7 separate regions of the Homo sapiens genome follow, and all the other regions are linked to region 7. Evidence: fine-mapped expression QTL. A gene starts in region 7. Each other region holds a variant in brackets. All regions are shown on one strand. Distances are from middle to middle.

What was found. PIP is the estimated chance that this variant, and not a neighbour inherited with it, causes the effect.
Region 1: its variant is fine-mapped to the expression of CHST15 in whole blood (TOPMed, PIP above 0.99).
Region 2: its variant is fine-mapped to the expression of CHST15 in activated naive CD4 T cells (Schmiedel 2018, PIP 0.95).
Region 3: its variant is fine-mapped to the expression of CHST15 in fibroblasts (GTEx, PIP above 0.99). The same link has a PIP of 0.9 or more in whole blood.
Region 4: its variant is fine-mapped to the expression of CHST15 in whole blood (TOPMed, PIP above 0.99).
Region 5: its variant is fine-mapped to the expression of CHST15 in monocytes after R848 (Quach 2016, PIP 0.95). The same link has a PIP of 0.9 or more in monocytes after Pam3CSK4.
Region 6: its variant is fine-mapped to the expression of CHST15 in whole blood (INTERVAL, PIP above 0.99).

The regions. Positions count from the first base shown.
Region 1 is chr10:124,023,779-124,027,843 of GRCh38, forward strand. The region is part of intron 5 of CHST15 (carbohydrate sulfotransferase 15); the gene reads right to left. Among named protein-coding and RNA genes, the nearest start is that of CHST15, 68 kb to the right of the region's middle. RefSeq lists enhancers at 1,696-1,865, 2,571-3,567. The variant C/T (reference allele first, on the strand shown) is at 1,631.
Region 2 is chr10:124,063,991-124,068,055 of GRCh38, forward strand. The region is part of intron 1 of CHST15 (carbohydrate sulfotransferase 15); the gene reads right to left. Among named protein-coding and RNA genes, the nearest start is that of CHST15, 28 kb to the right of the region's middle. The variant CT/C (reference allele first, on the strand shown) is at 2,055.
Region 3 is chr10:123,995,703-123,999,767 of GRCh38, forward strand. No RefSeq gene overlaps it. Among named protein-coding and RNA genes, the nearest start is that of CHST15, 96 kb to the right of the region's middle. RefSeq lists an enhancer at 1-28. The variant C/T (reference allele first, on the strand shown) is at 1,875.
Region 4 is chr10:123,988,481-123,992,545 of GRCh38, forward strand. It overlaps the pseudogene YBX2P1. Among named protein-coding and RNA genes, the nearest start is that of CPXM2, 99 kb to the left of the region's middle. The variant G/A (reference allele first, on the strand shown) is at 2,529.
Region 5 is chr10:124,264,642-124,268,706 of GRCh38, forward strand. No RefSeq gene overlaps it. Among named protein-coding and RNA genes, the nearest start is that of OAT, 150 kb to the right of the region's middle. The variant G/GA (reference allele first, on the strand shown) is at 1,889.
Region 6 is chr10:124,036,027-124,040,091 of GRCh38, forward strand. CHST15 (carbohydrate sulfotransferase 15) reads right to left here. Exons shown (of 8, transcript NM_001270764.2): 5 at 2,489-2,645. Among named protein-coding and RNA genes, the nearest start is that of CHST15, 56 kb to the right of the region's middle. RefSeq lists a silencer at 145-194. The variant TA/T (reference allele first, on the strand shown) is at 2,086.
Region 7 is chr10:124,091,453-124,095,517 of GRCh38, forward strand. CHST15 (carbohydrate sulfotransferase 15) reads right to left here and starts at 2,146. Exons shown (of 8, transcript NM_001270764.2): 1 at 2,017-2,146.

The sequences.
Region 1 (4,065 bases), 68 kb before region 7:
AGGCAATTCTGTGACTCTCATTCTGCACCCATGCATCCAGGTATCTGACATCCATATTTCCGTCTTCGTTTTTTTTTTTTTTGAAGCGGAGTTTCGCTTTTGTTGCCCAGGTTGGAGTGGAATGGCGCAATCTCGGCTCACTGCAACCTCCGCCTCCCGGGTTCAAGCAATTCTCCTGCTTCAGCCTCCTGAGTAGCTGGAATTATAGGCGCCTGCCATCACACCCAGCTGATTTTTTGTATTTTTAGTAGGGACAGGGTTTCACTGTGTTGGCCAGGCTGGTCTCGAACTCCAGACCTCAGGTGATCCACCCACCTCAGCCTCCCAAAGTGCTGGGATTACGGGCGTGAGCCACCACGCCCAGCCGCCATCCATACTTCCAAACGCTCCCAGACCTTCAGCCACATACTACCCTGCAAAAACTGTGCTCCCTTATAGCAGGGTCTGTTGCAAATGCGCCTTCTCCACTGCCCTCCCCTCTAATTGAGGTCATGATATGAGGAGCAGCATTTCTTAGGGACAGGCCCAGAAGCTATCCACCTCCGTAGCCCACCTTGGCACATCGGGTGCCTCTGACACAGCCCTCTAGAATTCATCCACGGCCAATGTCCACAGAGGACACCTCTTGGAAGTCTTGAGCAGTTTGAGATCTACCCACAGAGTTCCTAGAATCAAAACACCCACCGGAACAGGAGTGTTCCATCTACCACAGCCTGGCCAGCCAAACTGTCCAAAGAGACAGTCAGCAAAGGGGCTCGGTGGCCACTGAGTAGATTTCCCCAGATCCACACTCGCCTGAGAATATTCCCCAAGACAACACCACATCAGCTTATTACTGGTGTCCCCAACATCACCTGTGCTATTTTCCTTCTTCAGAATTAGAAGACACATCAAAACTGAAACACGGCATCTGTCGCCATAGGGTCGCTCATGGTTACTATGACCTAAATGGCTGGTCAATAAGTGCCAAAATCAGACACGCGTGAACCTTCAAGCAAGGTTTGGCTGTGTGCACTGAGGGGTGCCAGGTGGCAATTGGTCTGAGGGGTACCCTTCCTGGCTCACACATTTCCTATGAGTCCTGTCAATAATATGGCTCAGCCCAAGAAACTACGTCAATGAAAAGTAACAGATGCTTCTGAAACTGTCATAAAATCCCACGTTAAATAAGTATTCGAAGCCCAGTTTTTACCAAAGATGCCCACAGAACTACCCAAATTGTTTGGTGGAACTGGAATTCCATCACATAAATTACCTCACACAAACCCAAACACTGGCTGAAGGTTTCCATACTGAGAATTTTCTTTGTGGTAATAACATTTCTTGCAGATATTTGGCTCATAAATAAAACAAAAGCACCTAAGCTTGTCTTGATTTTAAATACAAAGTCACTTCATGAGGAATCTGCTGATTCCATACAATTCTTCAGAGATCAAGAAGTAATCCCTAGGAAAAACTGGGACATACCTACTGTTCCAACCAGGCAAGCCCACCCCTAGCAGGTGAAACGGCTGATTTTCATCTGTTTGAGGTGGGTTAAAGTGAACTCACTACCTCACTTCCTGTGAGTCACATGTACAGCCTTTGAGAGCCAGGCCACGCTCCTTCCTCGGCTGGATGAAAAGAGACT[C/T]CTTTGGCCTCTCAGTCACCTCTGGGTACTTTGGATCTGCTCAGAGAACTGGCAGTGGGCTTTGGGAGCCCCTCGAACCCCACTGCGAGAAACTATGCTGGGTCCCTGGCATCCTGCTGTGTCACAGACATCTGAACAGGGACTAGATTCACCACAAGCCATGGCCACCATCTGGATTCCGTAGTTGGATGGATAGTGGACACCAAAGAATTATGTCCAAGTCTGAAGCCCAGCCCCTGTGAATGTGACCTTTCTTGGAAATAGGGTCTTTGCAGATGTCATTAAGTGTAGGATCTTAAGACGAGATCCTCCTGGATTTACGGTGGTCCCAAATCCAATGGCAGGTGTCCTTATAAAAAGAGGAGAGGACAGACAGCACCACAGAAAGACGGAGACAGAGCCTGGAGTGCGGCGTCTATGAGCCAAGGAACGCCAAGGACTGCTGGAGGCCACCAAGAGCTGGGAGCAGGGGACGGCTTTTATCCCTTAGGGCCACCAGAGGGAACCAACCCTGCAGACATCTTGATTTAGGACTTCTGGCCTCCAGAATCATAAGAGACTACATTTCTGTTGTTTTAAGAAGCCAAGTTTGTGGTGATTTATTATGACTGCCCTAGGAAACCAGACAGATTTTAAACCCCAATTCTAAGGAAGACCAATTACTCCAAGGAGTTATTTTTGCCAATACTTCTCTGCCACCCTGAGACCCTGGAACAGTGGCCCTGAGGGTAGGGGAGGACTGGGGTCATGTGGCCACATTTCCCAGAAGGAAGCATGAAGGAAGGCAAATGCGGACAGGAGCACTTCCCTTCAGGGGAGCACTCAGACAGGGGAGCACTGAGACGGGGGAGCACTCTTTGGGTTCTCCCCAAGAATTAAGCGAATGCTTCCTAAGATTGTCTTCAAGTAACAAAGCTATCATTTCCCCCTTGACTACTCTCCAGGGGAAAAGAGTGAGTTAATAATCTTGGGTGGGGGAAAGCCACTCGGATAGGTTAAAGCCACTCAGAAAATGCTGAGAACAGCAAACATATCAAGAACAAGTATCCACTGGACGTCAAAAGGCCAGACAGGCACACTGTGGAACAAGATGAAACGTACAGAAACAAACTGAAATGTCTACCTTTTAGTCTTCAAAATCCACTATCCCATGAGGAAGTGGGGGAAGGAGACCAATGTAATGGAAAACACACAGCTCACGATCAATCATCACAGAACTGCAGGGGCACGGATGCAACCCCAGGATGCATTAACAGGGGCACGGCATGAGGAATGTGGGAGGGTGGAGCCAGGCGACAGGCAGCTCACGGCCTCAGCGGATGCTTGCTTTCAGTGCTGGGCACCAAACCTGGCTGCTCTCCCTGGAGATGCAAAAACTCAGCAGGAAGGAGCCCAGTCCCGAACTCCTGAAGGACTGACCAGCGGGCAGAAGGTTCGGGAAGAAAGCCTGGTTGCAGGCAAGGGGAAATACCTCCAGTCAGGGCAGGCTAACACGAGGGGATGGTCCTAGAAGGCAGGAGCAGCCTAGGCTGGAGGGAAGGAGGGCTCCAGGATAGCGTGGGGGCCAGGGGACATCATACCCTCCCAGCCCTGAGTTTCAGGGCTGCCCAGCCCCCTCCAGCTGAGCCACCTCATTTTCTTACTCTCAAACCATCCCGAACAGATGGGTATTACATTTGGCCAGGACTGTTTCCAACGACAATTCCAAATATAAGTCCAAATGCATTCCAGGCCTTCTGTGCTGCGGTTATTTTAGAAGGCTGTCGGCGCGGCCCCTCACACTGGGCCCGTGCTCATGGGGTACTGCTCAGCCCCTTTCCTGTGCAGTGCAGGGGTCCTGGGACCCCTGGAGGAGCGGTGGGATGGGAAATGTATGTTAGGGGGCATAGGGCTCCATCAATCCAGTGCCTCTGAAAGTGACCATGTCTCTCCCCAAGGGACAAAGGAGAGGCCAGCAGTGGCAAGGCCCTACTATGTAAAATCTGGATGATTACAGCCAAGACCACTGCTGGATTCATTCAGGGACACTTACAGCCAAGACCACTGCTGGATTCATTCAGGGACACTTACAGCGTGCTGTTCTGAGCCAGCGAGCAGAGGTTGGTGAGTTGATCACTATTAAAGCAGGAGCTGCTGCTGCTCCTCCCGCCAGGGCTCTGTGTGATTGCTTTCCGGGTTTAGTACCTGCAATGTTCTCAGTTTCCACTCCTGATGTGGATGCTGGGGGGTAGGGAGGGCCACCACCACCATGCCCTGTACAGGGTGCTGCATGCATGCTCTGCGTCTATCTTCACAACCCCATAATGAGATGTGGGCCACCCCATTTTACTGGGGGAGAAGGCTGACACTAGAGAGGTTAAGGAGTTTGCCCATGGTCACGCAGCCCAGGAAGCTCCAGGGCAGGGCTGGGACCCAAACAAACCCAGGCCTGCCTG
Region 2 (4,065 bases), 27 kb before region 7:
GTGGATCTTGGCTGAGGCACAGTCATCTCCCACAAAGCAAACGATCTATGGTATGAGAAATTAGTAACCTCTCTGAATTAATCACAGAAGAGTGGAATCTTTCTCATAAGATCTGGAAAGAATTCAGGCCTCATTATGAAGGCCAGGACTTTCTTGCAGATAGCAGATTTCCTCCTGGGCTAAAACGAAATCTCAAAAAAAAAAATAGACTTACGAAAAGTCATTGTAGCTGACTGGTTCAAGCTGACTGGTACAATCAAGACCTGCTCTGGTTTCTGTTTCGGAAAAGTAAATATTTGATCAAAGCACACAGTTTTCAGACCTGAAGTCATTTCAGATTAAGTAAGAATTTCGCTTGATGCAGTCAAAGTGCCTGTGTGATGGCCTCCCCATCCCCAAGGCCTTCCCCATCCTTGCAAAGGTACAGCAGTGGCCACGGAGCAGAACGCAAGCCCCTGACTGGGAGTCCATGGGGATTCAGGGTGCGCAGCGTAGGCACAGCCCTGGCGCTGTGGGGCTTGCGGCCCGGGAGACACCACGAGATCATGAAACAACCATACCCACTCTGTGACTTTGGGCAGGTCCCCCAAGCCCTGAGCCCCTCTTCGTTGCTGGGCTGTACCTGGGAACATTCAATCCCCCTTGCAGCACTGCATCCCCCCAACCCCACCCCCGAGCCCCCACTCCTGCTGGCGGCCTTTATCTCGCTGTCTCTGTGTGTCCATCTCTGCCTCTCCCAGCCTCCTTAGCCAGATCCCATTTTCCCCAACACCACTGGCCCTGCTAGATGCATTCGCTCTTGCTCACCCTTCAGATCTCAGGCAAGGACCCCTTCCCTGAAACCCCAGACCACACTGGCCCTGCCCTGATCCTCCAACCCTTCCCACTTCCGTTTTTTGTGTGTGCTTGTCTGACTAGCATCCGCCTTAACCAGCTGACAGTCCTATCAGCTCTGTGAAGGCAAAAGAGTCTCTTCTTTTGTTCGCTTTTACAAAAAAAAGTCCTGAAGAAAATTCTAAAGGTAGGCAGGCAACACACATAAAAACATAGCCCAGTCATAAAGACAGAATGCCCAATACATGTTGGGGGCGGGGGTTAAATTTAAAATTTGGGCTGAGCGCGGTGGCTCTTGCCTGTAATTCCAACATGTTGGGAGGCCGAGGTGGGAGGATGGCTTGAGCCCAGGAGTTCAAGACCAGCCTGGGCAACAAGGCAAAACCCCATCTCTACAAAAAATTTAAAAATTAGCCAGGCATAGTGGTGGTGCCTACAGTCCCAGCTACTTGGGAGGCTGAGGTCGGGGGATCTCTTGAACCAGGAGATCCAGGCTGCAGTGAGCCATGATCATGCCACTTACACTGCAGCCTGGGTGACAGAGCAAGACCGTATCTCAAAAAGAAGAAAAAAAGTAAATAAGTAATAAAACTTGGTAGGTTTTACAATTCTGCCTCTAGGCTTAGTCTCTATGTCACTGAAAACCTGTTTCTCCATGACTTTCAGGCAAATTGTTGTCACCCAACCCTGCTGTGGGACTGCTGGGGGTTGGCCCCAGGCTTCACTGGCCCTGGGGTTCCCGACACCCACAGAGAGCTACTCCCTGCCCCTCCCCCGCCAGTCCTGCTGGGAGCAGACACAAGGGTGATTCTGCGGGCCCCATTACGGCAGCTCATTCCCACCAACCTCAAGAGCCCCTTCCTGCCTCTTCCAAATTAGCTTTCACCCTTAACAAAACATGCCAAAATGATATGTCTCAGTAAATTATATGATTCTTACCTGTGGCCAGAAGTCTTGTTTTTTCCGTTTTGTTTTGTTTTGACCCATTCTCAGTTTCGTATAACCCTTTCAGGCAAATTTCTGCACCCAGAAGATATAATTTTTCAGCACATGCCGCAAAATCCCAGGTACTGAGCTCAGGACAAAAAAGAAGGGGGAAAAAAATCCCTCCTCCCTTTTGGATCATTTGCATTCCTTTCCCGTAAAGGAAACTTGGAAACGTTTCAAAAGCATCGAGTATTCGGAATCAACTAAAAACCCGAATTCTTCTGTCTTTTTGT[CT/C]TTTTTTTCTTATTTGGTCCCCTCAGTCACTTTTTCCCCTCTTCTACCCTTCAGAAAAGGCAAAATACCAGTTACCTATCTAATAAAATGAGTGCCTCCATTTAATCAATTTGAGAGATTCACTGGGTTTTATGGGAGGACTAGATTTGGGGGTTTAAAACATTATTCCTCAAGTTACAGAGTGTTGGGCTAGGAGAGCTTTGAGCGTCGACCAGCTAGGGGAAGGGGGAGGAGGCTGAAATGGAAAGAAAGAGACGGATGTTTCTCAAACTTCTTTAGCTAACACACTGCGAGTCTGGGACTCGAACCCAGGGCTGTCTCTCTCCACCACCGCCAAGACGTGTTCTGTCACTGCTTCTGCATCTATTTCTGGGACTGACCCACACCTCCTCTTATGTAACTGGCTGGGGGAAAGAAAAAAAAAAACGAGTTTACACGGTCACAAAGCAATTTGCAATTATCTTCTTTCTAAATATTCATAAGCTGGGATTATTTTCCCCTTTGGATGACAACACAGTCGATGACATCGCTGGAAAGTCTTTGGTTGACTTAGTTTTTCTGAGGTTTTCACACCCAAAACCTTGAGCAAAAATGAAGGATGATGAACAAATCCCAAAGGTGCTTTTCCTTAGAAATGGCCAAAAGCGTTCACCTTACAATTTAAGCAAGAGGTGGAGACCTTTCATCTTAGGATGGGGGCACCCCACCTGGGCTGCCATGCACCTCCCTCCTGGGGAGGTGGGCTCCAGCCCAGCCACAGCTCATTTCCTGGGCTGCGTCTCCCTGTTCCCCTGAGCAACCAAGCCCAACCCAGCCACAGCTTTCTGAGATGAAGCCAGCACTTTTGGTGACAGCACATGCCTTGGGCTTAGCCTCCTCCTTTTGTCCCATTCTTCCTATCCCCACTAGGACCTGAGCCACCCGCAAGGCGCTCTGCAGCTGGGGCAGAGGGGCCATTTGCACATTCCAGAGTAACTGGCTGCACTTAGCACTGTGCCGGGCATGCAGCCCCATCTGAGTGACAAGACAGTCGCACCCCAGACTCCACATCCTGCACTTAGTGCTGGGAACACCAGGACTTCTGCAAGTGGCAGACTTCCAAACTCCCTTAAAAATCTCTTTGGGGATCACAAAGAAGAGATTAGGAACATTTTTCAGAGCATGAAGCCCAGATATTTATCGTCCATGGATATTTTCTGGCCAGTGATCACATTCACATCATTCGTGGAAATCTCTGGCATCTACTGCACTTATTCAGACCAATTTGCTCAGTAATCAGTGCAGGTGCACTTCTGTCCTGCTTCCTAAGATATGCAATCCAGTTGGGCATGGAAGCCGCTAGAACAGAAGCTCAGATCCAAACTGAGGCACTTGAGAGATCACACTGTCGGAACCTCTCATCTCCCAGATAAGGACCAGGAGCAGGCCATCTGCCCCAAACCAAGGCTGACTTTCAAGCCTGATAAACAGGGAAGTTGGAGACTTCTTCTGCATGTTGGGCAATTAAGCTTATAAGTGGAAGTCTGCGCCCTCAACTACTTTCAGAAACAGATTTAGAAACAGATGGTTTTTGTGTTTTTGGTTTTTTTGAGACGGAGTGTTGCTCTGTCACCCAGCCTGGAGTGTAGTGGCATGATCTCAGCTCACTGCAACCTCCGCCTCCTGGGTTCAAGCGATTCTCCTGCCTCAGCCTCCCAAATAGCTGGGATTACAGGCGACCACCACCATGCCCCGCTAATTTTTGTATTTTTAGTAGAGACGGGGTTTCACCATGTTGGCCAGGCTGGTCTCGAACACCTGATCTCGTGATCCGCTGGCCTCGGCCTCCCAGAGTGCTGGGATTACAGGCGGGAGCCACTGCGCCTGGCCTAGAAACAGAAGTGAGTATCATTTCCCCCAAGGAGAGTTGGGTTTTCAAGTTTCATTAAAGGTTGTGTCTGCGGGTGCAAAGTGAAAATGATACATTGAGGCAATTATCCAGATACGTAATGTCAAACTACCAGAAACTTT
Region 3 (4,065 bases), 96 kb before region 7:
GACCTCAGAATTGGCCGCGTCTGGGGCGGCTCGAGGTTCCTGGGCTCTGAGCAAGCGTCAGCCTGTGAGGTGGAAGGGCCCAGGGCACAGCCGGTCCCATCTGCTCAACAGCGCCTGCGAAGAGCCCCATGGCCAGCAGCACACTCAGCTCGGCTCTGGCCTGCAGGGGGATGTGGGACAGGGAGGGGATGCAGTGAAGGCAGCGGTGGAGCCCAGGACGGAGTTTCTGTCCCTGGGAGTCTGGGCACACAGTGGGTCGCAGGGGAGGAGGAGGCCCTGCTGTCCTGGCATTGCTGTTGCTTCCACAACCTGAAGATGGCACCCAACCCTGACCTCAGCCCTCCCTACCTGCAGCAGCTCGGTCTGGCCTCCCAGCCCCAGACCATGTCTGAAGTCATTGAGTCCACACGGTTCCACCGCCTCCTTGGAAACCCTTTTCAGAGACTCAGAGTTGAGAAGCTGAAGCTGGGACTCGAGCTCTGGGGACCAGCAGACCTGAGATCAAGGACCAGCTCTTCTCCTTACTAGCTGAGGGGACTGAGCCCCAATTCTCCCACCTTTATAATGGCGGAACCAGAATAAAGATAAAACCTCCTCCTGGGGTTGCAGTGAGGATCTAATGAGACACGAGGAGACGCCCCAGCACAGGGCGTGGCACTCACCCTGTGTTCAATCATAGCTGGCCCTGTTATGACCGTTTTCATCCCCTTTACCATGGATGGCCTCTCATCTGGCCATTGCAGGTGACAGGTGTGTCCATGTCCCCTAGACATCCTGGGCGTGCTCAGCTCTCCTGGCTTTCAGCCGTTTGGCAAAACACCCTCCAGCTGATCTTGTATTTACCACAAGTCAATTGTGTTTGCCCCCGAGCCTTTTTCATGCCAGCTGTTCTTGATATTATGAAGGCACAGGTTAATTAAATATCATATAAGCTAGCAAGTTTTCAAACTAGTTGGGTTTGTTTGTTTGTTTTCAGAGGTGGGGTCTTGCTCTGTCCCCCAGGCTGGAGTGCAGTGGCATGATCACAGCTCACTGCTGCTTCAAATTTTGGTGCTTAAGTGATCCTCCCACCTCGGCCTCCCAAGTAGCTGGGACCACAGGTGTGTGCCACCACATTCTGCTAATTTTTATTTATTTATTTATTTATTTACTTACTTACTTACTTACCTACTTTGTAGAGACAGGGTCTCACCATCTTGCCCAGGCTGGTCTCAAACTCCTGGGGTCAAGGGATCCTCCTGCCTCGGCCTCCTAAAATGCTGGGATTAAAGGTGTGAGCCACCATGCCCAGCCTCAAACTGTTTAAAGATTCCTTTATACTCTTAAAAATCATTGAAGATCCCAAACAGCTTTTGTTTCAGTGGCTTGCATTGATTGATATTGACTATCTTCAAAATTAAAGATGAGAGACTTTCAAAGCACAGAGACACACAAGCACGCATTCCGTCGGCTGTCAGAGGCCAGGGCTGGGGGCTGGGGGCTCTGAAAATCTTTATTTGTACCTTCTGGAGAAAATGAGAGCATCAAGGGCAAACAACATCTCAGTTTGACCGTGAAAAGAATTTGGACTTTGGATTCCCTGAAAGGGTCGCAAGTGGTCCCTGGGCCACTCTCGGAGAGCCACTGAGGGAAGCTGATGAAATATTAATGCAGAAAGGGAGCTGCTCCCTGAATGCTAGGCTGGAAGCTTTGGAAAGTCCCAGCACAGATGAGGGTAATGATTTGGGGAAAATAATCACACAAATAATGAAGGACTCTGCCTCGAGATTGCCTTGCAAGCGCCTTCCAGTTCTCATGTCCCTTTAGAAACACTGAAACCAGAAATCAGTGCTGATTCACTGCTCTGTGGTTTCTGCCACAGAGATGACCCAGAG[C/T]TCCAATCAGTGGGCTCATGCTCAGAGAAAAGGTTTTGGCTCCATACCAAAAGGCAGACAAATAGATGTGCTGTACTTCACATATTTGAAGTAAAAATAAAATGTTTAAGAAATGTCTATGTGGTTAAGTAGGACTTCCCCACCCATCTAACTTGCCCAGCTAACGCTGCAATTACGGATGTTGCAAGAACGTTGACTCGACCCAGCCTTCCCCTGCTACGGTAAATGTCCCTCACCCCTCCACCCTCAGGCTGGACACCAGCTCCAAGTCTAATCCTTGTCTTTGACCATTTGGGGCTTGACTTTGCCTTTGACCTTGCCTCCATTGCCTGCCACATCCTTCAGTTAGTGACAAGCACAAGATGGGTCAGATTTGGTGGGTTCCAACACTGGGTCCAGTACTAAGTGTGTGACCTTGGAGCAGTCACCTAACCTCCCTGAGCCCCAGCTTCCTTTTCTGTAAAATGGGAAGTTACACATAAGCATACATATACCCCAGCTCTGTGGGTGCCGTCAGTAGTGATGTCACCATCCCATTGGTACAGTGCCTTTGAGATGGCCCTTCAGCCGTGCTTCCTACTCCCAGCCCCTGTGATCACTCACTTGGACCATAGAAGCCTCAGCCTTAGTCCTTCCATTTCCAGGCACTTCTACCTGCTCCAAATTAATGACCTAAATCCCTGCGCTAACCAATAATTCCTCTGCTCAGAAAATGTCAGTGTGGGAAGCTCAATACACCACTAGTTCAACCAAAGGCATTTACCCTGAGACCCAAACCCTCTTTGACCTTGTGCCCACTTACCTGGGTGGCTTCACCTCCTACTGCTACAACAATCGTGCCTGAGGACCATTGCTGAGGTGACCTGCCCCCACCTCCAGGGTCCAGATGCCATGTGGAGGGTATTACATGCGTGAACCCTTATCGCCATAAGGGCCTGAGTCTGAGTGCATACCCATTCTGCAGATAAGAAAACAGAGGCTCAGTAGCATCAAACCCTCTGCCTAAGGTCACACAGAGGACAATGGCAGAGCCAGGATTGTAGTCCAGGTCTCCCTGACTCCAAAGCCCAGAATGTTCGTATACTCCTTTCCGGAGGCACTGAGACCTTCCCTGCTCTTTTGGCCTTCCCTGCTCCCTGCCCCTGCTCACCCCAGCCCCTCCTCTCGGCATGCCTGCCCACCTTTCTAGATCCTGCCAGTCTTTAGGGCTCAGCTTAACGCCACCTCTTTCCTGATGCCATCTGGGTCACAGCCCCCATGCACCCTGCAGACCTCTCCTCTGCTGGAGGTTCTGACATTTGCACAAGGCCTGCATTCTTCTAGGCTCTCCCTGTTCCTTCCTTAGGAAAGTGAGCCTGGCCCTTACGGTGAGGTCCTCTTTCCCTGCTTCACACTCCAGAGCGGCAGGCCCCAACTTTTTGGCACCAGGGACCAGTTACATGGAAGACAGTTTTTCCACAGTTTGGTGGGGGGGATGGTTTGGGATGATTCAAGCTCATTACATGTATTGTGCACTTCATTTCTATTATTACTATACTGAAATACGTAATGAAATAATTCTACAACTCACCATCATGTAGAATCAGTGGGAGCCCTGAATTTGTTTTCCTGCAACTAGGTGGTCCCATCTGGGGGTGATGGGAGACAGCAACAGATCTTAGATTCTCGTAAGGAATGTGCCACCTAGATCCCTCACATGCACAGTTCACAATAGGGTTGGAGCTGCTATGAGAATCCAACGTTACCACTAGGAGGTGGAGCTCAGGTGGTAATGTGAGCGATGGGGAGCAGCTGTAAATAGAGATGAAGCTTTGCTTCTCACCTCCCGCTGTGTAGCCCAGGACTGCTACTGGCCCATGCCCGAGGGGTGGGGGATTGCCTGCTCTACAGCATCATCACACATGCCTTTGCCCCATCTAAGTTTGTTGAGTGAGTATTATGTGCAGTCACTGATTCAGGCTCTGAGGCTGCAGCCATGAACAGAGTTCCCACCTCAAGGAGCGGAGGTCCCTGATGGGCAGAGGGCTGCTGAAGCAGCAGCAGACACACAGATGGTCCAGTCTCAGGTGACAGCTGTGAGCAAATCAAGCAGGGAGGCTGGCCATGCAGGAGAGGTATTATTTTGTGTAAGTGGTCAGGGAAGGGACCGTAGTGAGGCGAAGGCACTGGCCTGGCCAGGGTCAGGGAAGGG
Region 4 (4,065 bases), 100 kb before region 7:
ATTATGAATGGTGTTGCAATAAACATGGAGGTGCAGGTGTCTCTTTGACATACTGGCTTCATTTCCTTTAGATATATACAGTATACCCAGCAGTGAGATTGCTGGATCATACGGTAGCTCTATTTTTAATTTTTTGAGGAACCTCCATACTGTTTTCCATAACAGCTGTGCTAGTTTACATTCCTCACCAGCAGTATATAAGGTGATATGGTTTGGCTCTGTGTCCCCAACCAAGTCTCATATTGAATTGTAATAATGCCCATGTTTCATGGGAGGGGCCCAGTGGGAGGTAATTGAATCTTGAGAGTGGGTTTTTCCCATGCTATTCTCATAACAGTGAATAAGTCTCGTGAGATCTGATGATTGTATAAAAGGGCAGTTCCCCTGCACAAGCCTTCATGCCTGCTGCCATGTAAGACATGTCTTGCTTCCCTTTTACCTTTCACTGTGATTGTGGGGCCCCTGCAGCCATGTGGAACTGTGAGTCAATTAAACCTCTTTCCTTCATAAATTACTCAGTCTCAGGTATGTCTTTATTAGCCACGTGAGAACAGACTATTACATAAGGGTTCCCATTTCTTCACATCTTTGCCAGTATTTCTTTTGTTTTTTGTCTTTTTGGTAATAACCATTCTACTTGGGGTGAGGTAATATCTCATTATGGTTTTTATTTGCATTTCCCTCATGATTAGTGATGTTGAGCATTTTTTTACACTCCTGTTGGCAATGTTTATGTATTCTTTAGATAAATATCTGTTCAGATCTTTTGCCCATTTTAAAATTCAATTATTTAGTTTTTTGCTAGTGAGTTGAGTTCTTTATATATTCTGGATATCAGCCGCTTGTCAGATGCATAGTTTGCAAATATTTTCTCCTATTCTATAGATTGTCTCTTCACTCTGTTGATTGTTTCCTTTGTTGTACAAATGCTTTTTAGTTTGCTATAATACCATTTGTCTATTTTTGCTTTTGTTGCCTATGCTTTTGAGCATAGGCAACAAAAAATCCTTGCCCAGGCCTATGTCCTAAAACATTTCCCCTATGTTTTCTTCTAGTAGTTTTACAGTTTCAGGTCTTACATTTAACTCTTCAATCCATTTTGAGTTGATTTTTTTTAATATGGTGAAAGAAAGTGGTAGAGTTTTATTCTTCTGAATGTCAATATCTAGTTTTCTCAGCACCATTTACTAAAGAGGCTGTCCTGTCTCCCAGTGTGTGTTCTTGACACCTTTGTCAAAAAAAATCAGTTGGCTATAACTGCTTGCATTTATTTCTGGGTTCTCCATTCTCTCACATTAGTCTATATGTCTTGTTTTTATGCTAATATCATGTTGTTTTGGTTACTATAGCTTTGTAGTGTATCTTGAAGTTAGGTAGTTTAATGCCTCCAGCTCTGTTCTTTTTGCTTAAGATTGCTTTGGTTATTTGGGTTTTTTTATGGTTTGGTACATATTTTAGGATTGTTTTTTCTATTTTTGTGAAGAATGTTAATTTTTTTGATCGGGATTGCATTGAAATTCTAGATCACTTTGTGCAGTATGAACATTTTAACAATATTAATTCTTCTAACCCATGAACATAAAATACCTTTCCATTTATTTGTGTCCTCTTCAGTTCGTTTCATTGATATTTTATATTTTCATTGTAGAAATCTTTCACCACTTTGATTCAATGTATTCTTGGTTTGTTGTTGTAGTTGTTGTTTTTGAGACACAGTCTCACTCTATTGCCCAGGCTGGAGGGGAGAGGCACTATCTCGCCTCGCTGCAACCTCTGCCTCCCGCATTCAAGCAAGTCTCCTGCCTCAGCCCCCCAAGTAGCTGGGATTACAGGTGTGCACCACCATGCCTAGCTAGTTTTTGTATTTTTAGTAGATACAAAACGGGTTTCACCATGTGGCCAGGCTGATCTTAAACTCCTGACCTCAGGCAATCCTCCTGCCTCAGCCTCCCAAAGTGCTGGGATTATAAGCGTGAGCCACCACACCCAGCCCAGGGATTGCTTTCTCGATTTCTTTTTCAGATAGTTTGCTATTGGTGTATGGAAACAGTACTAATTTCTGTATGTTGATTTTGTACCATGCAACTTTAATGAACTTATGAATTCTAACGGTTTTTTTGGTGAAGACTTTAGAAGATCACGTCATCAGCAGACAGAGAAAATTTGACTTCTTTCTTTCCAATTTGGATGCTCTCTATTTCTTTCTCTTACCTAATTGCTGTGGCAGGGACTTCCAGTACTATGTTGAATACAAGTGGTGAAAGTGGGCATCCTTGTCTTATTCCAGATTTTAGAGGAAAAGCTTTCAGCTTTTTTTTATTCAATATGATATTAGCTGTGGGTTTGTCATATATGTCCTTTATTGTGTTGAGATATGTTCCTTTTCACACCTAATTTGTTGGTGATTTTCATCATGAAGGGATGTTACCTTTAGTCAAATCCTTTTGTTGACGTTGATTGAGACGATCATATGGTTTTTCTCCTTGCAGAGTCTCATAGGAGTCCTCAGTGAAATGCAAGACAGCGCA[G/A]GTTCCTGACAGCATCTCTCCATCCAGGCCAAGGCAGACTGGCCGTCTCACAGCTGGATGGGGACACAGATCGAGTTCTGGCAACTGAAATGTGAGTGGACTTAAATGGGTCGCTTCTCAGCTAAGGCAATGGTAGTTCCCTCTTCTGGTGCATGGGCTGAGAGGGCCCCGTGTTCCAAGAGGCATAGCCACTGGTTGGTGAGGGGCTGTGATACGTGAACAAGCATGGGCTTGAGGGACTGGGGAAAGGGAGCGATTAAGAAGTGCAGGCCGGGCATGATGGCTCATGCCTGTAATCTCAGCACTTCGGGAGGCCAAGACGGGAGGATCACTTGAGGTCAGGAGTTTGAGACCAGCCTGACCAACATGGTGAAACCTCGTCCTACTAAAAATACAAAAATTAGCCGGGCGTTGTGGCACACGCCTGTAATCCCAGCTACTTGGGAGGCTGAGGCAGGAGAATCACTTGACTCCGAGAGGTGGAGGTTGCAGTGTGCCGAGATCAGCCATTTCACTCCAGCCTGGGCGACAGAGCGAGACTCCATCTCAAAAAAAAAAAAAAAAAAAAAAAAAAAAGAAGTGCAGCAATTAAGAATGAAGACATTGGGCGTCCGGGCGAGGCTCGGGGCGCGAGGATCGCGCAGCGCAGCGGGTTCGCCAGCCGGGGGGAGGGGCCGGGGCGGTGGCGGCGGCGGCGGAGGAGGCGGTGGCGGCGGGGGCCGGTACTGGACCCGGCGGGATGAGCGAGGTGGAGGCGGCAGCGGTGGCGACAGCGGTCCCCGCGGCGACGGTGCCCGCGACGGTGGCAGGGGTGGTAGCGGTGGTGGTACCGGTGCCCGCAGGGGAGCCGCAGAAAGCAGGCGGCGGGGCGGGCGGCTGCGGCGGGGACGCAGCCGCCTTGGACCCCGCTGCTGGGACCCCCTCGGCGCCGGGCCCCCGCACCCCTGGCAACCCGGCGACGGCGGCCTCGGGAACCCCCGCCCGGAGTCAGGCGGACAAGCCGGTGCTGGCAACCCGAGTCCTGCCTGGGCACTGCCAAACGGTTCAACGTCCGGAGTGGTTACGGATTCACCAACAGGAATGACGCCAAGGAAGATGTCTTCGTTCACTGGACAGCTGTTAAAAGAAACAACCCCAGGAAGTTTCTGCGCAGCGTTAGAGATGGGGAGACTGTGGAATTTGATGTCGTGGAAGGAGAGAAGGGCGCAGAAGCCACTAATGTAACTGGGCCCAGGGCGGCGGGGGTGCCCATGAAGGGCACCGTTATGCCCCCAACCGACGTAGGTTCCGCTGATTCATCCCCGGCCTCCCTCAGTTGCCCCACCACCCATGGTGGCAGAGATCCCCTCTCGGGGGACAGAACCTGGCGGCGAAGGGGAGCGGGCCGAAGACTCTGGGCAGCGGCCCAGACGATGGCGCCCCCCACCCTTCTACCTACGGCGGTTTGTGCGAGGCCCCCGGCCCCCCAACCAGCAGCAGCCTATAGAGGGCACTGATGGGGTAGAACCAAACAGACAGCCCCATTGGAGGGGCACCA
Region 5 (4,065 bases), 170 kb after region 7:
CTGGCACAGGAGAAGGTTTCCCCTACACTGAGCCAACAGTGGACCCTCGACTTTTGGAACCCAAGACCCTTGGAGAGCACAGAACAGTCTCCTCTTTTCCTCTAACAAGTCTTCAAACATCGAACATGCTTTTTCCGTCCTTCACTGACTCAGCTTCTCTCCAGGTGGAAGGTGGGACCCTGCAGTCCTTCCTCGCTGCCGGGGGGCAGGTCCCTCGACACCAGGGCCACCCTCCACGGAGCAGTCACCAGCTTGAGCTGCCCTTCTCCAGAGGTGGTGCCAAGTGGGCTGCAGGGATCTAGTGTGGTCCTGCCACGCAGAGGGCAGCAGTACTGCCCACTCGTTCCCACCCGGGCCCTGTTCCTGCCCACTTCTCCTCCCGTAGGCATCTGTCCCACCATGACAGTGAGGTCCCCGGCTCTCCAGGGCCTGTTGAGGTGCAGTAAATGAAGCCTACTCAGATCAGCTCACAACAGTGGACTTAAACCACCGGCATGGGAACACATCAAGGAACCCAAGAACTGAGGAAGTGTGGGAACGGGCAGTGGGGACCAGACTCTGCTTGGAAGGAGCCACTGCCTTCTCGAGCCACTGCCTTCTCAACCCCCACTCGCCCTACCCAGGGCTGTGCAGATCCTCACCCCCTCTCGGGCCCTCAGGCTCTCATCCTCCCTCTCCTGCAGATCTTCTGCCCCTGCACCTGCCTCAAACACTCCGATGTGCATGGCTGTCTCCATTCCAGTGCCACCATCCAACCAACCAACATCTCTGATCCAATCCCAAATTCCCTGGATTTGAATCTGATTGGATCCCCCTAGATCAAGCCCCCTCTCTCATCCAATCAGTGGTAGCCCAGGAGGGGCACGTCCCAGACATGGCCTTGGGGCCCTCCCAGTGGAGGGTGTGGGTATGCAGACCCCCAGCCATGTGCTATCTAGGCTGCTGACTCCATCCCTCCACCTCCCCACCCCAGCCCCCTGCACTCACACAGTAGACCCCTTACAGGACTTGTCCCCTTCTTCCTGAATCCTCTCCTCTGCCAAGATTGTCCCTCTCCCCAGTCAATGGATCTTGTTTTAATCCTAATTCTGGCTTCCAGTATAAATGCTCTCTCTCCATCCTGTGCTGTTCCTAAATCTGATGCCTGTGTCTGCTGGGTCCCTGGCTAAGCTGAAAACCACTGGCCTAGCCAAGGCTGGACAAGGCCTTGGTGGGGCAATGGTGGTTTCCCACCCAGGGCTCTGGAACCTGGAATTTGACCCACTGGACTAGAGACCTTGTTCCTGCTGCTGTTGCCCCTACCGGCTCTGTCCTTCCCACCACAGCCCTGCTCTCCAATACCCACCCCTGCCTGACTCCCAGCCCCAGCACAGTGCCCAGAACATCCGGGCTCCCCAGTGGCTGCCCCAGGCCCAGTTGCTTTCAGGTGGTGCTGTTCCACCCTCCCCCAGACCCGGGACACACCTCTGCCTTGGAGCCTCCCTGGGGAACCTTCCTAGAAGACAGGAAAGGACATTCACTTCCACTCGAGTTATCCTGACATCAAACCTGGCTGTGCAGAAAGAGCAGGTTCCTTCAGCTGGGGAACAGCCCTGCATGACGGAATTAGTGCCACTCCACGGCGCCTCCAGAAACCATGCCCACTGCCCACCAAGAGCCACGAGGAGTACACCGGGTCCTGAGAATGCACATCCCCTGCGGTGCAGCTTCCCCAGCCAGGAGCTTCGCAGGTATGCCCTACAGGGAGGAGGAGCTCTTCCACCAGCCCGGCAGCCCCCAGGTTTCAGGAACCATTTCAGCCACCTTAGCAGGGCTCATGTTCAAGTTTAGACTAACAGTTTCATGACCACATTTTTAAAAATTCTATTACTAATTCAGCTTCTATGGG[G/GA]AAAAAAAAAAAAGCCCAGCTTGATTTTCTAACTTGGTTTTTCAAGAAGCTGGGTAAGACTTCCCTATCTGACAGCAATGAGTAAATCATTACTCAGCACCTTGGAAGGACATTCTAGAGCTCCAGAGAGCTTTCGGGCCAGGAAGGTGTGCTGGGGAGCTGGACTCCTCTGACCACATTTTCCAGAAGTAAGCCCTTTACCTTGGTCTGCTCAAGGTACCGTGGTGTCGTGCAAGGGTAATGAAGGGACTGCGATGGAAGCCGGGCGGGAGACACGCCCTGGGACAGGAGGCTCAGGCCTCACTCCGTACTCTCTTCTCCACCAGCTGGAGGCCCTCCAATCTCACCATGCCCTAGGGACAGACAAACGGCATGTGACAGACACCCCCGGTGCCCCTCGAGGCACCCACCCCTGAGCCCACCTCTGCCTCAGCATCTTGGTGGCAGGCGCTAGCTGACCTCACACTCCCTGGCCCTGAAAGCATTGGTCTCACACCTGCCTCGTGCGTGTCTCCAGGCACATGGGAGTCTGCCCAGGCCAAGCACACACAGCTGGAAGTGTGGGGGTGAAGTCCCCAAGGGCAAACCTCTGACCAGGGGTGTCGTGAGCCAGTGGGTAAGCTGTCCTCTGCCCTTCCAGTGGACAATTTTGTCCCTACCCAGGAGGTCTCAATGGTGTCAAGCCTCAGGGCCCACAGCAGCAATCTCAACAGCCCTTGTGTTCGTGTTTCCTCCTCCTATTCCTACTCTCCACACTCCCATGCCTCCACTTTTTGGGATCTGCTCCGATAGCCCACCTGCACCCAAGTCTCAGGCCTGGCCTTCCAGGAACCCAAACTAAGATGCCATCTCTCTGCACACCACAGGGACACAGGGCCTCACGCGAGGCTGCCGCTGAGTCAGCTCTCCATAAAAACCTGCCAGAGGAATCAAGGAAGCTCCTGTGTCCTTCCTGGGAGGTGGTCCTTACAGGAAAGTCACACAGCAAATCTGTCATATGAACAGGGTTTCCTGACATGCAGGCCTCTCTCTGCCAGCCTCAAGCTTCACTTCAGCGAGTGCAGTCCCCCTAGGCTGGCGACACTGAGCGCTTCCAGCTGTCAGAGCCCATGGCATTGGCTGCCATCCATGCTGCAATCCACAGGCTATTAAGGGAGGCCCAGAGAGGCCAGAGCTGGGCCTTGTCACTGGCCCACAGAGTTCCTGTTACTACAGTCACCACCCAGACACTCATTATCCCCCCTCTGAGGCCTGCAAATGGCCCTGCCAGGGAATGTGGGGGTCATGATTGCTTTTTACTCAGTATCCGACTCAGGGCTAGGACATGGCTGTCTCTGAGGCTGGAGGTACAGCAAGGAAGGTTCCCACAGGTCCACATCAGAGGCCTGGACACAGATGGGGGCACAGCCCAGACCAGTGCACCCTTCCAAACCCCTTCCAGAAGAGCCCATTGGAAAGAAAAATTGGTCCCTCTGGGGACCCAGGAATTTGGACACAAGTGTCCCCGAGCAGGAGGCAGGGGCACCAGGAGGCCTGCACAGGAGGAAGGAGCCTGGCCAGAGGTCCTGAGCCCAGGGAACCCCTGCTGGCTCTGTCTGGCAATTCCTTTCTCCCTCCCAACGTGAAATGACGGGCTTTGGGCAAGACCCCCAGAGGTGAGTCCAGCTCCGACAACTGTTTCCAAAAACACAACCCCAGAGCACCAGGTCTGGGAGACAGACAGATGCTCCATGGACAAGGTGTTCATTGGTCTAATGTCCTTGAGAAGCCCTGCACACAGGAGGCCCCTCTTGAAGACTGACTTGGCTAAAGGCCCTGAGATGTCCTGCAGCACAGAGCCCTGTTTAACGAGTAGAGTCCAGACTGTCCCTAACTTATGTGACCACAAAAACCTTTTTTCCAAGGACATCTCCTCTTTCTAAAGCACAGACTGAGCACTGGCAGTGCAAGCCATTTGATTGGCTATTACCAAGGTTGCTCCGAGGAGTCTGTCTCCTTGGGATGCAAGGTGGAAAACATCCGCATAGAAAAACAGGTGTCTCCGGATGCTGTTCCTGAGACAATGCTCTAAGGAACAAATTAGGGAAACACCTGAAGCCTTGAGGGGAAACTTGTTTCCACTGGTGATTTATCTGCAGGTGGTCAGGGCGGAGATGGAGGCATCAGTAGCTGCCTGG
Region 6 (4,065 bases), 55 kb before region 7:
CCCTGAGGTTAAGGCGTGGTCTGACCTTTCTCAGAATGAGGAACTAAGCAGCAGCGACAGGAAAACATTTGATGAGCACACCGAGCACTTGCGCCCTTCAGCTGGGGGCCGTGTCGGGGAGGGAGGCAGAGCAGCTATGCAAACACCTCCGGGGGCGGCGAGGGGTCAGCTCGAGGTGACAGTTATGTCACCATGAGAGCTCGGCTAGTGTGCGTCAGCCCTGCTGGATGGAGGGAGACCACTCAGCAGGGCCGATTTCTGCCTCCAAAACACGGGAACCAGCAGGTGGGACATGGCAAGGGACGGCAAGTCAGTGCCTGCCTCAGAACAGAGTGGAAGAAGTCCTGGGCTGGGAGATGCAGAGAGCAGGGAGCGAAACCACACCTGGCACCTGCTAGAAGGCATGGCACCGGGACAGCCACCAAGAGCTCAGGCTCAGAGCGCTGGGGCTGAGGGAGGGCAGATCCAGCCTCTCCCTGACCAGGTCATACTCAGAGCAGCGGGAGCCATGCAGACTCCACAAGAGGGACATCAGCTCAGAAGTGTGACCAGAGCAGACTTTAAAGCATGTTTCTGGGGGGCAACAATGCAAAGTGAAAGAAGCAGGACATAAGACTGTCCTGTCACACCCATGTGCACACACACACACACACACACTTATTTGCATAGAAAAGTCTGGAAGAAAATACACCAAAACATAAATAGTAGTTATCTAGGTGAGAAATTAATAGTTTGAAAACAGTTTTCCAATATATGTTCCAAAATTTCCACAACAAACACGCCTTATTGTTATAATTGGCAAATACGTGGGGCCAGGAAGGTATGCCACCTGAAGAAGGGGTCCCAGGGGTCAGTTTCCCGGGGCTGCCAGGACAAATCACCACGAACTCGTGGTGCGTAATGACAGGACTTTCTTCCCTCAGTGTCCTGGAAGCTGGAGTCTGAAACCCAGGTGTGGGGCAGAGGTGGTTCCTCTGGGATGCCAGGGGAGAATCTGTTCCACTCCTCTCCTGGCTTCTGGTGGCTGCCGGCACTCCTTGGCACCCCTTGGCTGGTGGCAGCATCACTCCAGCCTCGTCAAGAGGCATGCTCCCTGTGTCTTAGGGTGGGTGAGGGTCTACCCTGATCCAGTATGACCTCATTTTAACCGGAGTGCATCTGCAAAGAAAGATCCTATTTCCAAATAAGGTCACAGTCATACACACTGGGGGAGACAACTTCAGCTTATCTTTTTGGGGGGCACAATTCAATCCATAAGAAGATGTAGTTGGCCCAAAGGAAAATAAGACACAAAGGGCTGTGGTCCCTGTCTTTAAATATCGCCAGCCTCTCCTGTTTTGGAAGGATTAGACTTGGTCTGTCTGACTCTATGGAGAAGAAAGAGGACCAATGAGTGGATGTTTCCCCAAAACAGACCTGGTCTCAAAATAGGAACACAGCTGTCCTAAGCTACACTGGCCATCTTGCGCGGAGAATTCCCTGACTCAGAGGGCCTCGGATTAGACAGGTGCCCCCTTAGCTCTGATGTGGAAGTATTGGAGGGAGCACTGGACCAAATAATTTTCAGGTCCTGGCAGCCCTGAGATTCTGCATTCACACAGGCATAAATGATGCAAGCAGTGCCCAGTGCCAGCCAGGCCGCCCCATAGTGGCTGTTCAATATCCCACTACCCTGGCCTCACCCACACTGGGAAACCCTTGATCTTAAAGCAAAGCTGCTCTGCTCAGCATTGTTCTTCCTTTTGGTCTCTCAAGGAAAGCTGGAAACTGTACATTCAACGCAGACAAGGATAAAGGCATCAACCACGTGGAGAGACACAGAATTCTAGGAGTTAAACCACGTGGAGAAGCTTACACCCCTGATTCTAAGGGTGTTTCCCTCGCCTTGACAGTACCAAGGAACCGTCCTGTGCCCCTGGTCAGGCCTGCTGGGGCTGAAGTCACACAGACCAGGATCAGAATGGTTAAGAAAACCATCTGCAACATGTGTCAACTCAGTGGGGACAGCCTCAAGAATAACACTTACGTAAGAAACAGCAGTAACGTTGCAAGTTCCGTTTATTTTTGTTTGTTTTTATTTTATTT[TA/T]TTTTTTTTTTTGAGATGGAGTCTCACTCTGACACCCAGGCTGGAGTGCAGTTGCACCATCTTGGCCCACTGCAGCCTCCGCCTCCTGGATTCAAGCGATTCTCCTGCCTCAGCCTCCCGAGTAGCTGGGACTATAGGAGTGTGCCACCACATCTGGTAATTTTTGTATTTTTAGTAGAGATGGGGTTTCACCATGTTGGCCAGGCTGGTCTTGAACTCCTGACCTCAGGCGATCCACCCACCCCGGCCTCCCAAAGTGCTGGGATTACAGGCATGAGCCACTGTACCCGACCTGTTTAATTTTTTCTAAAGGAGACAAAATCTTATTTGTCATGAGAGGGGAACACTGTTCTTCAAAAGTTCCTCTTCTCACCCCAAATACAACACACAGAAACTGCTCACCTCTCCACAGGGTCCCTGAGCATGACAATCAGTCTGGCATTTGGCTGAAAGGCGTGGATGAAGTCCTGCGTCAGAAACGGTGGCTCGCCATCCGTGCTGTTGTCGTAGAAGAACGTCCAGGCATTATTATCCCACATCGTGGAGGCACTGGCCTCCCCTGGAAACAGAAAACACTCCAAGTGAGCAGGGGTGTGATTCAGGCTCCCACGGAGTGGCTCTAGGTGCCAGAGGCCACACCTGGCCCCGATGCCTTCCTCTTAAGCAGCGGGAGAGGCCAAGCTGTCAGCCTTTGCGGGCATCTGGGACTCCAAAGAGAGAAGGTTGGATGCCCCCCCCTGCCACAGCCACACCCCACCTCCACCCCAAAAACTTCTGTCTGGAAGTCCAGGCGATCCATGCAACACTGAGTGCCCCCACCCCTGAGCTCCTCTTTCCAAGGGGAGCAAAAATGAAACCTTCCCTAGCACCTGGGCCCCCAGTTTCACAGTATTTAACTTTGCTCACAGTGCACAGCTCTGTGGCATTTTAAGGGCCCACTGAGAATGCAGTCTGTCAGAAAAACACGCCAAAACATAAACAGCAGTTATCTAGGTGGGAAATTATAGGTGGTTTTGAAAATGGTTTTCCTGTATAGTATTCCAATATATGTTCTATACAGTAGATGGTTCTAGTAATAATAGATGGAGTTCTCTCTGAACTGGGGGCCCAAGATGATGAAAGGCCTTGACATTTCTGCCCAGGATCTAACAAAGAGAAAGAGCTGGGGCAGAGCTGAGCCACATTTCAGAGCCGGGAGGAGCCGAGAACTGGTCTAGCAGACCAGGAGCCTGGAGCTGGTACTAGATGATTTCCTTCCAAAGCGTCAGGAGAAAGGAGGAGGGTGGGAACACTAACCCTTATGAGGAATTTGAGTGTGATTTCCTTCCTTGAAGCTGTAACTGTTCATCACAGAGCATACTCTAAGACTAAAAGAGAGAGGGGCTTTGCCACAGGGCTCACACGCCCTGTCTCCTGCGAGGCGACTGCTCTGCACGCAGCTGGCGCCTACTCAGTGCAGCCTGGGTGAACGGGAACTGGGTCCCAGCCAGTTTCACATTTCATCATGGTCCTCACGAGTGAAGGATGTAAATGGCAAACACACGTCCCAGCACAGAGGTGATGCCAAGACACAGGCAGGCATTCCAACAGCACAGACTCTCTCAGAGGATGAAGCCAAATTTCCTGAGGGTTTGAGGAGAGACAGTGTGTGTGCGTGTATGTGTGTGTGTATATGTGTGTGTTTAGGAAAAAGGAAATTCATCAATCAGCTCTACACTTGATTTCCTGACAGTTTGCCAAGGACCACAGGACACATCTGAAAGTTACTTATCTGGGGAGAGACTGAGCCAGATGACTGAGTCTCTTTGGTCAGTGACAAGTGTATCATATCCCTGCAGGCCCCTATCATTTCTGTCGGATGCGTAATCACATCCAGGTGAACAGCTCTGTTCTGGCCTTTTGTTCTTTCTTTTTTTAAAGAGATAATACCCTAGGATACAGAAAAAACGAGTCAATCAGAAGTCCCTTGAAAATTCTAC
Region 7 (4,065 bases):
GGTGCAGATGCCCTCCGAGGCCTTTCTGCCCCAACGCTGGGTGGCTACCCTAACCCACCGAGGCATCCCACAACACTCAGGAATTGCAGCTGATAAAGAGGGGCTGGGGGCACTGCTAGGGCGCCCAGAGGCAAGGTTAGCCCCTTTGCTCAGCCTCACTGACCGGCTTGTCACATCCCTCTGCGGGGCATCCCGGAGCCACACTTCATTCCCGAGAACTCGGTACAATTAACTTAACCAACGTGAACAAGGCGAAGGCGCCCAGCTGTCACAGCGGCTCCGCGCACGCAGGCAGACGAAGAAGGGCCCCCGCCCCCAGGAGCTGGTCCCAGCCTCCAGCCTGGCAGCCTCCTTCGAAGACTTCCCTACACTGGGCGCGGACCTCCAGCCGCCAGCAGCCGGCAACCCAGCCCCAGCCTTCCTCCTCTATACCCGCCGTCCCAGCCGCGCCGGCCGGCCCCGGGCGCAGGGCGGGCGGGAACGTGGGCACCCGGACAGCGACGGGGAGGTCAAGCAGCTGTGCCCAGGACCCGGGCGGCTCCGAAGCCTCAACACGCACACACTCGCGCGCACGCCGGCCCATCGGTTGCCTGGAGGAGTCGGGAAGGTGCTTCCACGGCTCTTCATTCATTTTCCCAAAGGCAAGGTTCCCTTCGCCCCGGCGCCTCTATCCTGCCATCCCAGGGGGCCAATTGCGCCACAGCCCGCCACCCAGCCACCCACAGCCACCGCGTCCTATCTCCCGGCACACACAACCCAACAGACTCGCATTACATCTCCACCGCCAGCGTCGCCTCCGCGCCCCGGCCGCTGCCATCCGGCTCCCCAGCTTCGCCGCCCCGCAGCCCCGGCTCCCCGCCTCTGGCCTCACCGCGCGGCTCAGAGCTGCCTCGCTCGGCTCGCCGCACCAAGGCCGGCCAGAGACGCCGCCACCGCCGGGAAGCGCCGGCAACTCCCGAGTCACGCCGCCTCCCGAGACGCGGCGGGGCGCAGGGAGGGGACAGCAGTGGGGGCGGGGCGGGGAGGAGGAAGGAGGAGGGGGCGGGGAGCAAAAGTTCACACCGCTCGGGGCTCAGCCGCTCCCCTATCTCTTCCCAGGCCCGCCCCCGCCATCCCCCTTCCCTGAACCGGGTCCCACGGGCTTAGGCGCGGGAGAGCTCTGGCCTCCCCGCCCGGAACCGCCGCAAGGCTAGAGCCAGGGTTCTGGAAGCGCATCCGAGCTCGCAACCGGGGAGAGAGTGGCGGATGCCCACTTACCTGCCCCGGGCCGCGCCTGGAAACTTCCCCAAAGTGCGATAGGGGTGTGGGGGCGGAGCGCAAGGCTGGGGGGAATCCCCGTCCCCTACCGCCAAACGACGCGCGCTCACACCGTGAAAGCACTGGTCTGTCCGTCGGTCGGTCCCCCGCCTGCGGCTCCCAGAGCTGGGCGGTGCAGGGGCGCCCCGATTCCGACTACTGGGCTCCTTCTCCCGGACAGCCCGCCGGTGCGTTCCACGCGGCTTGCGCCCCCCGCCGGCCTCCGGCTATCCACGGCGCCACCACGCCACTGCTCGGTCCCCTGTCCCCTCGCTCCGGCCGCGTCCTCTCTGCGAGGGAGGGGGCGTGTGTCGCCGCTGGGTAACCCTTCCCGCGGGGTCCTCAAGCGCGCAGGGCGCCCGGAGCGCGGCCAGGACCAATGGCGAAGGGACTCCTCCCGCTGGGGATCGCTGAAGCCTCGGGGAGGCCGGGCCAAGGAGCCCGGGGCCCAAACCTGCCTCGGCTCGTCGAGCTCGCAAGTTCATTGTCTGCCTGGGCCGCCGCCGCCACCGCCACCGCCACCACCGCGCCGGGAGCGCCGCGGGGAGTGAGGCTGCGCGCCGCCTCCGCCGGCCCGGACTCCCTACGCCCAGCCCCGGCCGCCGCCGGCGCTGCCTGGCCCGAACCCGCGGAGGGGCGCCGGAGCCCCGAGCCCAGGGCCAGACCTCCTACCGCCGCTCCTCGCCGACCCCACCTCGGCGTCTGGCACCTAACTTGTACCTGAGAAGCCTGAGTCCAGCCCGGGAGCCTCTGCGGCTCCGGCTCCGCGGGAGCGCGCCCAGCCCCGAGCCTCTAGCCCCGCATCCAGGGCGCGTCAACCTGACTCCCCGAGCGCTGGGAGGAAAAGTTTGGGAGTGACGTGCAGACGGCGAATGAAACATCCGAGGAGAACCCTCCCCCCGCCCCATGTCGCGCTGACACACATCAGCTCCAGTCTGGAATGTGAGATCAAGGCGTGTGCGCCGAGCGGTGGGTTTGGCCCCTGCCCCCTCCCCCTCCGAGTCAACACTGCTTGTGTGTTGCGGTGATTCCAAATAAAAGCACATCGAAACCCCTGAAATCTGGCAGTGACACCTTGCCAGATACTTCTTTTTTTTAAAGACAGAGTTTCGCTCTTGTTGCCCAGGCTGGAATGCAATGGCGCGATCTCGGCTCACTGCAACTTCCGCCTCCCGGGTTCAAGAGAGTCTCCTGCCTCAGCCTCCCGGGTTCAAGAGAGTCTCCTGCCTCAGCCTCCCGAGTAGCCGGGATTACAGGCATGCGCCACCACGCAAAATAGGCTAATTTTATATTTTTAGTACAGACGGGGTTTCTCCATGTTGGTCAGGCTGGTCTCGAACTCCCGACCTCAGATGATCCGTCCGCCCCCCCAACCCAAAGTGCTGGGATTACAGGCGTAAGCCACCGCGCCCGGCCGCCAGAGACATCTTTAAGGAACTTGGCGGTCTGGAGCCAGCCCGTACATTAATATTCAAGGCCACAGCGCTGGTGAGTTCGGCGCCCTCTGTTGTATTTTTGCATCCCGGGAAGGCTGGCCCGGCTCTTTGGCCCGGCGTGTTTTGCTTCCGCGGGGGAGGTAAAGCTCTGCAGGACCCCGATCGCCACGGCCTGCCGCAGTGGCCTGGAGTCGGCTGCCCCAGGGAACCACCTGGACAGCCCGAGGGCAAGAAAGCGGCACCAGTGGCCGACTCCACTGACTCTGGGCTGAAGATGCCATCAGTTAAAGAAAAGACACATGAAATTCTGGCAGATTCGCTCAGAGGGCGCTTGGAGCACCAAGCCCAGCCTCTCAGGAAACTGAGGTCCAAGGGACAAAAAGAATCTGCAGTCTCTTGCCGGCCTGTGTCCCCGTGGCCAGAGTCCAGCACCCTCTTCCTCGAAGCAACCAGAAGTGGAAATGAAAGTGCTCCGTTAACTGTAGACTACATGCCACCGAAGGGTCATTCCTGACAGTGGCTTCTCCCCATTATCTCTTTATTGCCGGAGGCTTCATCTCGCCCCCCTGAAGCTACAGTCCACCCTGAGGTCATAAACTTCTGCTCAGCACCCATGGCAACTAATGCAGAGGTCACCATCAGAGGATTATAACTGCAGATGGGAAACCGGGATGAGAGGGGAGTTCTTTAAAATCCTGTCTTGTTTTCCTGCAAATAATGCCTCTTACATAAAATCTGCGAAGAAAGATGAATGCAGCAAAGAGACTTGCCTTAGAATCTCAGACTAGATTGCTTTTTCCATATAGACTCCACTTAGTGATTTTTGTTCTTTATTTTTTTTTTAAACAAAAACCTATTTCTGAAAATACAACGAGCTGCTTTTTGCAGGGTTCACAATTCCCAATAGATGATGATGCCATTTTTCAAGGTCTCACACACGTTGTGGCTTTGGGGCTTATTTATTAGCTCCCAAGAAAAGCCTGCCTTTCAGTGAGGTTTATATACTCGAGTAATTGCATCAGGGGACACAGAGCAGGTTGCTGTTAAAGAGGGTTGGTTGTACATGCGTCTGCAAGGAAGGCCCTGGGCCAGGCAGCTGTCAGACCAGTGTGCAACGGGTTTAAACAAACACAGGGAAGGGTCTGTGGAAACAGCAAGGAGGAAATCCCCTTCTGTAAGGGTGTGTGGAACATTATTCCAGGGCCACACATACTGCCAGGGAATAATGCCTTTCCTCTCCTCCCTCCAAGTAAACACATAACTCCGTTATGGAGATGGCGCTGGGCCCACCCAGATCACTTTCAAATTCAGGTGTCAGAAACCACGGTTGACA